Regions from separate parts of the Homo sapiens genome. Here region 1 is linked to region 2. Evidence: fine-mapped QTL for protein levels in blood plasma. A gene starts in region 2. The other region holds a variant in brackets. All regions are shown on one strand. Distances are from middle to middle. Region 1 overlaps BPIFA2 (BPI fold containing family A member 2). Region 2 holds the start of BPIFB1 (BPI fold containing family B member 1).

Region 1 (5,377 bases), 110 kb before region 2:
CTTATACGGTATAGTCTTTTGTTTTTCCTTAAGTTAGTAATTGCCCTGTTGTTTCTCACTTGAATTATTTTCTTCTCATATATACTTAATTATTTTCATGAGCATCATCCTGTATCTATCATGACATTTATTATTTTTTGAGACAAGGTCTCACTCTGTCACCCAAGCTAGAGTACACTGCCAGCCTCAACCTCCTGGGCTCAACTGATCCTCTCACCTCAGCCTCCCCAGTAGCCGGGACTACAGGTGCACACCACCACACCTGGCTAAGTTTTACATTTTTTGTAGCGGTGGAGTCTCACCATTTTGCCCAGGCTGGTCTCGAACTCCCGGCCTCAAGTGATCCTCCTGCCTTGGCCTCCCGAAGTACTGGGATTACAGGCGTGAGCCACCACACCCAGTCACGACATTTATTCCCATCCCCCTGTTCTCCAGAGACCTATCATAAAGACACTTTGTCCTCCTCCTCCTATAAGAATTATTGCTTTCTTTTGGTGCAACTGCTTTTGGTGTCATGAAGTCTTTGCCCGTGCCTATGTCCTGAATGGTATTGCCCAGGTTTTTTATGGTTTTGGGTTTTACATTTAAGTATTTAAACCATCTTGAGTTAAGTTTTTAATAAGGTGTAAGGAAGGGATCCAGTTCCAGTTTTCTGCATACATCTAGCCAGTTTTCCCAGCACCATTTATTAAATACAGAATCCTTTCCCCACTGCTTGTTTTTGTCAGGTTTGTTGAAGATCAGATGGTTGTAGACATGTGGTGTTATTTCTGAAGTTTCTGTTCTGTTCCATTGGTCTATATGTCTGTTTTGGTACCAGTACCATGCTGTTTTGCTTACTGTATCCTTGTAGTATAGTTTGAAGCCAGGTAGCATGATGTCTCCAGCTTTGTTCTTTTTGCTTAGGATTGTCTTGCTATATGTGCTCTTTTTTTGGTTCCATATGAAATTTAAAGTAGTTTTTTTTTCTAATTCTGTGAAGAAAGTCAATGGTAGTTTGATGGGAATAGCAGTGAATCTATAAATTACTTTGGGCAGTATGGCCATTTTCATGATATTGTTTCTTCCTATCCGTGAGCATGGAAAATTAACAAATGGGATCTAATTAAACTGAAAAGCTTCTGCACAGCAAAAGAAACTGGCATTAGAGTGAACAGGCAACCTACAGAAGGGGAGATCATTTTTGCAATCTATCTATCTGACAAAGGTCTAATATCCGGAATCTACAAGGAACTTAAACAAATTTACAAGAAAAAAACAAACAACCCTATCAGAAAGTGTGCAAAGGATATGAACAGACACTTCTCAAAAGAAGACATTTATGTGGCCAACAAACATATGAAAAAAAGCTCATCATCACTGATCATTAGAGAAATGCAAATCAAAACCACAATGAGATACCATCTCACACCAGTAAGAATGGCAATTATTAAAAAGTCAGGAAACAATAGATGTTGGCAAGGCTGTAGAGAAATAGGAACACTTTTGCCCTGTTGGTGGGACTGTAAATTAGTTCAACCATTGAGGAAGACAGTGTGGTGATTCCTCAAGGATCTAGAACCAGAAATACCATTTGACCCAGCAATCCCATTACTGGGTATATCCCCAGAGGAATATAAAACATTCTACTATAAAGACACATGTACACATATGTTTATTGCAGCACTATTTACAATAGCAAAGACATGGAACCAACCCAAATGCCCATCAATGATAGACTGGATAAAGAAAATGTGGTACATATACACCATGGAATACTATGCAGCCATAAAAAAGAATGAGATCATGTCCTCTGCAGGGACATGGATGAAGCCAGAAGCCATCATCCTCAGCAAACTAACACAGGAACAGAAAACCAAACACTGCATGTTCTCATTCATGAATGGGAGTTTAATGATGAGAACACATGGATGCAGGGAGGGGAACAACACACACTGGGGCCATTTGGGGGCTTGGGGGCAAGGTGGGGGAGAGAATTAGGACAAATACCTAATGCAGGTGGGGCTTAAAACCTAGATGACGGGTTGATAGGTGCGGCAAACTACCATGGCACATGTATACCTATGTAACAAACCTGCACATTCTGCACATGTATCCCGGAACTTAAAGTTAAAAAAAAAAAATTATTATTATTGCTCTGTGGACCTGCTGGAAAGCTGTCATTCTGGGACTCTCGTTTTCCAGTTTCATGGATTGGAGCCATTTTTTCTCCTGGATTCTAGATTTTTCATTTCTTGAGTGTATTCTCTCATTCTTTCTAGTTTTTCAAACTCACGTGAGCATCTCACTTAGCACAATGGACCCCTAAGTCACTCCTAGACACTGGTGTACAATCAATAGCAATTGCCTGGCCAACTGGTTGATTGCACTGTTGATAAATAATCAGTATATATTATTAATAGTACGGAGGCAGTATGGAGGAAACAAGAGTTCCCTGGCTGTGTGGCTAGACACGTTTCTTAACCATCTAGAGCCTTTATTTCCTTAGCTATAAAAAAGCAGACAGTGACAATATCTACTTCACTGAGTTGTTATAAAGATTAAATGAAATAACATAGGCAAACAGTCTTACCCGGTACCTGGAGCATCGTAGCTACTTCGTAAGTGGTGCGTGACACAAAATGGCGATTGTTTTTGGCAGGCATCCTTGAGAAACTGAAGGTCGACCTAGGAGTGCTTCAGAAATCCAGTGCTTGGCAACTGGCCAAGCAGAAGGCCCAGGAAGCTGAGAAATTGCTGAACAATGTCATTTCTAAGCTGCTTCCAACTAACACGGACATTTTTGGGTGAGTTGGTCCTTCAGGGTGGAGATCTTTGCTCTAAGGAAAGGGAAAACATATCTTTGAGGAGGTAAGT[T/G]TAAGATGAAAGACAGATGGACAAGCCTCATTCCCCTCCCACAGAGCCAAGGTGGTCTGAGCAAGGCCAGACCCACCAGAGCTTGAGTAAATTAGAGGCAGGGCTACAGAGTCAATCCGGGCATCTTATGGGTTCGGGCTTCCGCTTTCTTTAATTTCAGGGTCAGGGTGAAGGTTATATTTATCCTTACCTCTACCCATTTGCTGGTACACAAAGTCCCTTTCCAAGGAATAAAACTTCCCTTTTCCATATATAACTGGGGGTAAAAGCCCAGATCCCCTTAGGGGAAGGGAACTGGAGTCTTCGCCACATAACCCCAGGCAGTGGATCCACTCACATACTTTTATTATTATTATTGTTATTATTATTATTTTTTGAGATGGAGTTTCACTCTTGTTACCCAGGCTGGAGTGCAATGGCACAATCTTGGCTCACTACAGCCTCGCCTCCTGGGTTCAAGCGATTCTCCTGCCTCAGCCTCCTGAGTAGCTGGGATTAGAGGCATGCACCACCACGCCCGGCTAATTTTGTATATTTAGTAGACACAGGGTTTCTCCATGTTGGTCAGGCTGGTCTCGAACTCCCGACCTCAGGAGATCTGCCTGCCTTGGCCTCCCAAAGTGCTGGGATTACAGGCGTGAGTCACCGTGCCCGGTCCCACTCATGAACTTTTAAAGTCAGATAGTTCTGGCCTCAAAATCTGCCTCTGGCACTTACTCCCCTAGGAATCTGGGGGAAAATCACACCAGCCTGAGCCTCAGTGTGCTGTGCCATAAAATACAGAGAATCAAACCTCTGAACAGGGCTATAGTGAAGACTAAAGAAGGCAAGGCTGACGAGACCCAAACGCTCAGCTCGAGGCTGGCCCAGGGAAGTGGTTGGCAAGTGGCTGTCATGAGGAGTGACAAGGGTGAATTGTGGGTTTCACACAGGTTGAAAATCAGCAACTCCCTCATCCTGGATGTCAAAGCTGAACCGATCGATGATGGCAAAGGCCTTAACCTGAGCTTCCCTGTCACCGCGAATGTCACTGTGGCCGGGTGAGTATGCACTAGAATCTGAGATTTGGGAAAGGCAGTGCAACCTGGCCGATGGATGCCCAACCTGGGAATCGGGCACCTCCTCCCGCTGCTGGGTGAACTTGGGCCTCAGTTTCCCAATCTGTGAGTGAGAGAACCCTTCTGGGTCTAAGATCTTAACCCTTAAAATGTTCTAGAGAACTCTGGCCATAAGCAAGTGTCTTTTAAAAACAATGCTCCATTGAATATAGTTTTGAAATCATGACATTTATCTGGTTTTAAAATTTGAAAAGTTGAGATAACAAACATTTATCATTCTTTGGCAAAATTTCCTCCAGCATTATTTTGTCCCTCAAGATTCTCTCTAAGTTGCAGTGACCACTACAGAAAAATTCATACAATAATACACAGTGTATAATAAAGTGTGTGTGTGCAAAATATAAGTTTAAACTCTTTTAAGTTTAGCTGGGAGTGGTGGCTTATACCTGTAATCCCAGCAATTTGAGAAACTGAGGTGGGAGGATTGCTTGAGCTCAGGAGTTCGTGACCAGCCAGGACAATATGACAAAACCCTGTCTCTACAAAAAATACAAAAATTAACCAGGTGTGGCAGCACACGCCTGTAGTCCCAGCTACTTGGGAGGCTGAGGCAAGAGGATTGCTTGAGCCGGAGAGGTCGAGGCTGCAGTGAGCCGTGATTGCACCACTGCATTCCAGCCTGGGCGACAGAGTGAGACCCTGTCTCACAAAAAATAAAAAATTTTAATTTTAAAGGAGATAGACAAGAAATGAGCATGTGTGAAAGCACTTCTGTAAACTACATGCACTAATGATGCCACCCATTATTTAGCTATGAGATCTTGGGATAGTTACTTAACCTCTCTGTACCAAGGTTTCCTCATTCAGAAAATAGGGATAGTAATAAATGAATCCAGGTAAAATACTTTTTTAAAGTACCTACACATAAATTGTTGTCAATAAATGTTAACTATTATTATTTTACTTATTAGTGTAATGTTGTATAAAAAATTCATATGAGCTAAACCCAAGTGGCCAGGAGAAGAAGCCCCTAATATAAACATGTAAATCTCATAGAGGATATGGACCATGTTGATATTACCTGGGCCATGTTGACATTACACATAGACATTCTGACTCATGTCCACACAGGTGGAGGAACCCAACTGGGCAACAGGCAGGAACTTCTAGACTTTGTTCACTGTGCATCTTACTTCCTGCAGGCCCATCATTGGCCAGATTATCAACCTGAAAGCCTCCTTGGACCTCCTGACCGCAGTCACAATTGAAACTGATCCCCAGACACACCAGCCTGTTGCCGTCCTGGGAGAATGCGCCAGTGACCCAACCAGCATCTCACTTTCCTTGCTGGACAAGTAAGTCCCATTCATCTTAGTAGAGCTGGGCTCTCAGGGAACTTGAGGACCCCTAATTTCAGCTCTAGTCCTCTACCTAAGAGGAGGCCTAGTGGTGAAAGTGTTCAG
Region 2 (5,377 bases):
GCAGGCCACCCCAGCCACTCCCAGCCCCTGGTTCTCTAGCGTCCTCTCCAGGTGGTGATACTAGGAAGGACTTCAAGCAGCCCTAGACCGATCTTCGTCTTGCAGGGTCCACACCCGGCCCTGGGAAAACACACACACACATGCGCTTTGACCCTGCCCAGAGGGAACAGAGAGCAGTAATTTTCCACTTACGGAAGTCACTTTGCCCAACATGACTTCAACTCATCAGGAGACACAACCCAGTCTACTGCAAGCCCCAACTCCAGGGGAGACAAACCTCAAGCCCCTAAGTGGTCCCTGAAAAGGTCCCTCCTGCTAGGCCTGCATTGAGGCCCAAACACCTCCTGCCCTCCTCCCTGGGAGAGGAGGAGGGACCACAGCTGTCTCCCAAGAAATACCTCTGCCATCTTCTTCCTGTCCCTTCTTGGCCCTTTCGTTGCCTTAATCTGGGTCAGGGCCCCCTGCATGAGAGATGCAGGAGCTGTGCAACTGGTTTTTAGCCACTGCTTGGTCTGTGGCCCAGGACCTCTCCTTGGTATACAGCATCTGGGAAATCATGGTGCCTAAAACAACACTCAAGTTTTCAGACCCAGTTCCAGTAAATGCTAGTAAGGACACCCTCAGTGTGCAGCAAAAAGAGCCCTACCTTAGAGAGGGTGGTCCCCTTGTCCCCTGCTCCCCCACCCCACCCCAGGAGGCAACACTGTAGCTGAGACTTGGTGAATTAGAAGAAGCCAGAATGAGAGCTGGAAGGAGAGCGCTCCTGGGATAAGGCCAGCATGTGCGCAGGCCCTGGGGTGGGAGTGAGAGGAGCGAGGGATGAAGTAGAGAGAGGTGAGGGCTGAAAGGTGGCCAGCAGCCAAACATGCTGGGAAGAGGACATCCAGGCCAGGTGGAGCAGCAGTCAGGCAGCTTTATGCAGATGTTGCGTTCTTTTTTGTGTGTGTGAGACAGAGTCTTGCTCTGTAGCCCGGGCGGGAGTGCAGTGGTGCGATCTTGGCTCACTGCAACCTCTGCCTCCTGGGTTCAAGTGGTTCCCCTGCCTCAGCCTTCTGAGTAACTGGGTCTACAGGCACGTGCCACCTAAAAACCATGCCCGTCTAATTTTTTTTTTTTTTTTTTTTTAGAGACAGGGTTTCACCATGTTGACCAGGCTGATCTCAAACTCCTGACCTCAGGTAATCCACCAGTATTTGCCTCCCAAAATGCTGGTATTACAGGTGTGAATTTACCACTTGCTGAATTCTCTGATGTTTCAAGCATTTCTCATGACCTTACGAGACCCTCAAAATAGTCCCATTTCACAATGGAGGAAACAGTCTCATAGAGAAGAAGCAATTTTCCCAAGGCTGACAGCTGTCAGTATAGGAGCAGGAATCTGAGCCGTGTCTGTCGGCCTCCACAGGCTTCCTCCTGCACTCCTGCGCTTCTTCCCAGACAGGGCACAATTAGGTTTTCAGGAGGGTGAAGGAGGTACTCCAGAAAGAGGACACGGCACAAAAAGGCCTGGGAGCTGAAGAGAGGTGGAGCCAAGGCCAAGAGACGCCAGCAACCTGAGGAGGGGCCACGCGGTACTGAGGGCAGGTGTGGAGTCTGGGGACCATGGGCCTGCAGAGATGCAGCCAGCTTTGCTGTCCCAGCACGTGGCAGGAAGCAGGAGCTGATGCGGCCCCAGGTCTTGGCATTGGGCCCGAGCACCGCACAGAGGGTCATTGTCCATGGGCAGTGGGCATGGCCAGCTGGGAAGCCAAGCAGGGGCATTTGCCTCTCTGGAGATGTGCCCAAGGGATCGGCAGGGTCCTCCCAAGAGCTCTCTCAAAACACCTCACCTTTAGGTATTCAGGGCTTTTGGTGTGTTTGCAAACATGGCAGGACAGCAAACGCTCTTCACCTTGTTCTTCTTGTCAAAAAGCAGGAGGAAGAGACCAGCCAGGGCCTGGCCACGTACTTTGTGACCTCAGAACACTTACTGCCCCTGACTTGTCTGCTGCAGATGGAGACAGGATTCAACAATGGCCATCCCAGCTCTAAACCACAATTCCATTCTTCTAGACAAAAACTGGGTAGCAAGGATAATTCCCCAGATGACATCAAAAGGCCATGTTGGTGTCACCACCACCTCCAGTGCTAAATTGAAGTCTCAGGGGAAGGACAGTGTGGCGGTTAAGAGGGTCCGGTCTGGACTGATGATCGGGTTCAGGTCCCAAAGCTGGAATCCCTGGTCATGTGACCTTGAGCAAGTCACTCGCCTCTCTGAGCCTCAGGTGCCCTCTGTAACATTAACGCTGCTGATGCCCACCTCTGGGTGACTGTGCAGGCTGCGTGAGCCAAGACCTGGGCCCAGGTGGTGGATGACAGCGTCCTGCTGGGCTCTGACATTTGTCCTTTAGGTTCATGGTCATCCCTCCTTATTCTTTTGGTCCACAAGTGCTCATGGAGATTCCTAAAGATGCAGACAAGGTAGAGCAGATTTTAATTGCTGCGGAATGAATGAATGAATGAAATGAAAGCCCATGCTAAGCACTGTGTAGGCATGCACTTCAACTCATGCTCTTAACAACCTATGAGGAGGAGCTACTATTATCCCCATGCTATAGATGAGGTCATTGGGGCCCAGAGAGGTGAAGTACCTTGCCCAAGGGCACACAGCAAAGCAGTGGCAAAAATAGGATTCAAATCTATTCTCCTGGGTGAATTAATTGATGGAGATGTGTATCTTTGATGTATTTAGGAATAAGGGGTGGGTAAGGCTACTCCTTCCTTTTCCCAAATTGATTATCTGGATTAAACAATTGTTGTAATCCCTCTACAAAGGCTCATCCTATTATAAGCAATAATAATATTAATGGCAACGGCCACTCACATTTATGGAGTGCTTATTCTGCTATATGCACTGTGCTTCTCTCAGCCTGGACCTTCCTTTCTCCAAACCTCAGGAAGCTGGAGTCCCAAGGCTGCCTCCGGGCGGGGCTGTGGTTCAGCAGAAGCCACAAATATTTACCTTGGAGACCTCGGCCTGGTCTGAGGCCTCTGCCTAAAGACAAAGCCTGTGCTGGGGTGTGCAGGATATAAGGTTGGACTTCCAGACCCACTGCCCGGGAGAGGAGAGGAGCGGGCCGAGGACTCCAGCGTGCCCAGGTAAAAGTAGGGAAGGGGCTGAAAGCCAAGGTTGCCAGGAAGGTTCTGAGCTAGAGATACCTGTTGGGGTCAGGTCAGGAGCACAGGGGAGGCTCGCCCTCAGGGAAGGGCCCTCGGTGAGTCAGGATCCGCTGAGGGTCAGGGCCAGGTGTAGAGAGATGCCCAGCTCCCTCGCCCAGAGGACCAAAGGGCAGTGACGAAGGGATGGGGCTGGCTGAGTGTTTTCCTGACCTCTTCCTAGTGACATAAACCCACTCTGCACATACCAGTTGCTCTGTCCCAGCTGTGCTGCGGTGGTGCTGGGACAAAAGAAGCATGAGACGCAGACTCTGTCCCTCAAAGAACTCCCAGTGCAGGACAATGTGGTGCCCAAGGAAGACCCAGGGACATGGGAGTGGAGGACAGTCAAAGAAGGGATCCTGGAAGAGGTGATGTGTTGGTTGCAAAGCCGAGTAGAAGGCGATTGGGCAAAGGAGGAGAGAAAGATATTCCACGAAGGGGAACTAGCAGAAGCAAAGGCTGGGAGAGGAGGTGCCATATGACAGGGGCGTGTGTGGTGCCTGGATCTGGGGGAGGAGAGTCTTTTCCACAGGAGGGAAACAGGGATGCTACCATCCTCGTGGGTCCCTGGGTTTCTCTGATCCAAAGAGGACTGAGCAGTGTGTACAGATAATGCAGGACAGACAGAGTCAAGGTATTTGCAAGGAAAATATGGAGTGGGGCCACAGGGGTGCCTGGATGCCGGGGTTCAGCTCTGTCTTCTGGCTTTGGCTGCAAGGTGTCTCCTTCTGACTCCAATATTAGTAATAATACCTGTCATAATTATCGTGGAAGCTACCATCTACTGAACGCTTGGCCATGCCAGGCCACAAATAGATTGTCTCATTTAATCTTCCCAAAAAGCCTATGACATAAGTACTATAATTATTCCCCATTTTATAGATGAGTAAATGGAGGCTCAGAAAGGGTAAGTCACTTGTCAAAGATCACAGAGCAAGTGGTAGAGGCAGGCCTCCAACTAGGGTTCATCTGGCTGCCAAGCCAATAATATTTTCCCCTCCACCTTCAGGCCTCCTAACACTAACCTTTTCAGCTTAGCAGGCTCAGATTTCCAATTCTTTCGGGGCTTCCAGAGGCTATGCAATTATTCAGCAGCCATTTATTAAGCACCTGGTCTATGCCAACCACTATACTGGATGCCAGGGACACAGCAGGGAGCAGGCAGACCCAGCCCTCCCTCCCAGAGCTCACAGCTTGGTCAGGGAAGCAGAGGCTGAATCATTATTGCAAGGGTCTCAGAAGAGCTCACACTGCTCCAGGGCACAGGAGACACATGTCATCCGGATGCCACATTTGTCTTTGGCAAAAAGAAATCCACATGCTGAACCAAGCGAGGGGCTCAGATCTCTGCAGCGTCTCCCCTCCCTCCAAGCAGGACAGTCCACAGGGGCAGGAGCTTCCATGGGGGGCTGGCAGACAGAGCCAGGGTGCAAGCTGGAGAGCTCAGGACTGGACTACAGATGTTGATGCCACACCCCTGTGGAGGGAGGGGACAGAGCAGCCAAGGGGCCAGAATACCCCCAAGCTCCTCTCCCTGGCATGAGCCACAGGGCCCTTTCTCTCTCTCTCTTTCTCTCTCTCTCTCTCTGCCCTTCTTTTCCTGGCTCCAAGAAGCCATTCAGTCCCTCCCCAGCCCCCTTAGTATTGCAGATTAAGCAAAGAGCTTTTTCACAACTTTGAGTCCTACCTGGCTCCTCATTTCCTTCCTGCCTCCAACCTTCATGTCTTGGGCCCCAGGACAACATTTCTCCAAGTGTGGTCCAGGTTCCCTGTCTGCAGGACAGGGGAAGCTTTATAGGGAAAGTGACAAATCTTGGCAGGGTTTTAAAGGATGAATAGGAGTTCATCAGGGAGATATGGGAGGAGAAAAGCATTCCAGGAAGCAAGGAAGAGCAAGAGCAAAGGCACGGACACAGGAGAGAACACAGTATGTTCTGAGACCTTCCAACTGCTTGGAACTTGCTAGAACAAGGGGAGAGAAAGCAGGAGGTGAGGTCAGCAGACGGTGAACCATAGAGGGTTTTAAGTGTCAGACTGAGGGGTGGGAGACACGGGAAGCAGAAGTTCTTTGTTCTGAGCATTGTTGCTGGATTTTCTGTAAGAAAATAGCTAATACAGGCTGGGCGCGGTGGCTCACGCCTGTAATCCCAGCACTTTGGGAGGCCGAGGTGGGCAGATC

Evidence for each region. PIP is the posterior inclusion probability: the model's chance that the variant is causal. Sun 2018 read protein levels with aptamers (SomaScan).
Region 1: its variant is fine-mapped to the plasma level of the BPIFB1 protein (Sun 2018, PIP 0.95).

Annotation. Positions count from the first base shown.
Region 1 is chr20:33,170,291-33,175,667 of GRCh38, forward strand. BPIFA2 (BPI fold containing family A member 2) reads left to right here. Exons shown (of 9, transcript NM_080574.4): 3 at 2,642-2,786; 4 at 3,789-3,896; 5 at 5,117-5,269. Among named protein-coding and RNA genes, the nearest start is that of BPIFA2, 4.8 kb to the left of the region's middle. The variant T/G (reference allele first, on the strand shown) is at 2,857.
Region 2 is chr20:33,280,117-33,285,493 of GRCh38, forward strand. BPIFB1 (BPI fold containing family B member 1) reads left to right here and starts at 3,098. Exons shown (of 16, transcript NM_033197.3): 1 at 3,098-3,138. RefSeq lists enhancers at 1,170-1,670, 1,671-2,171.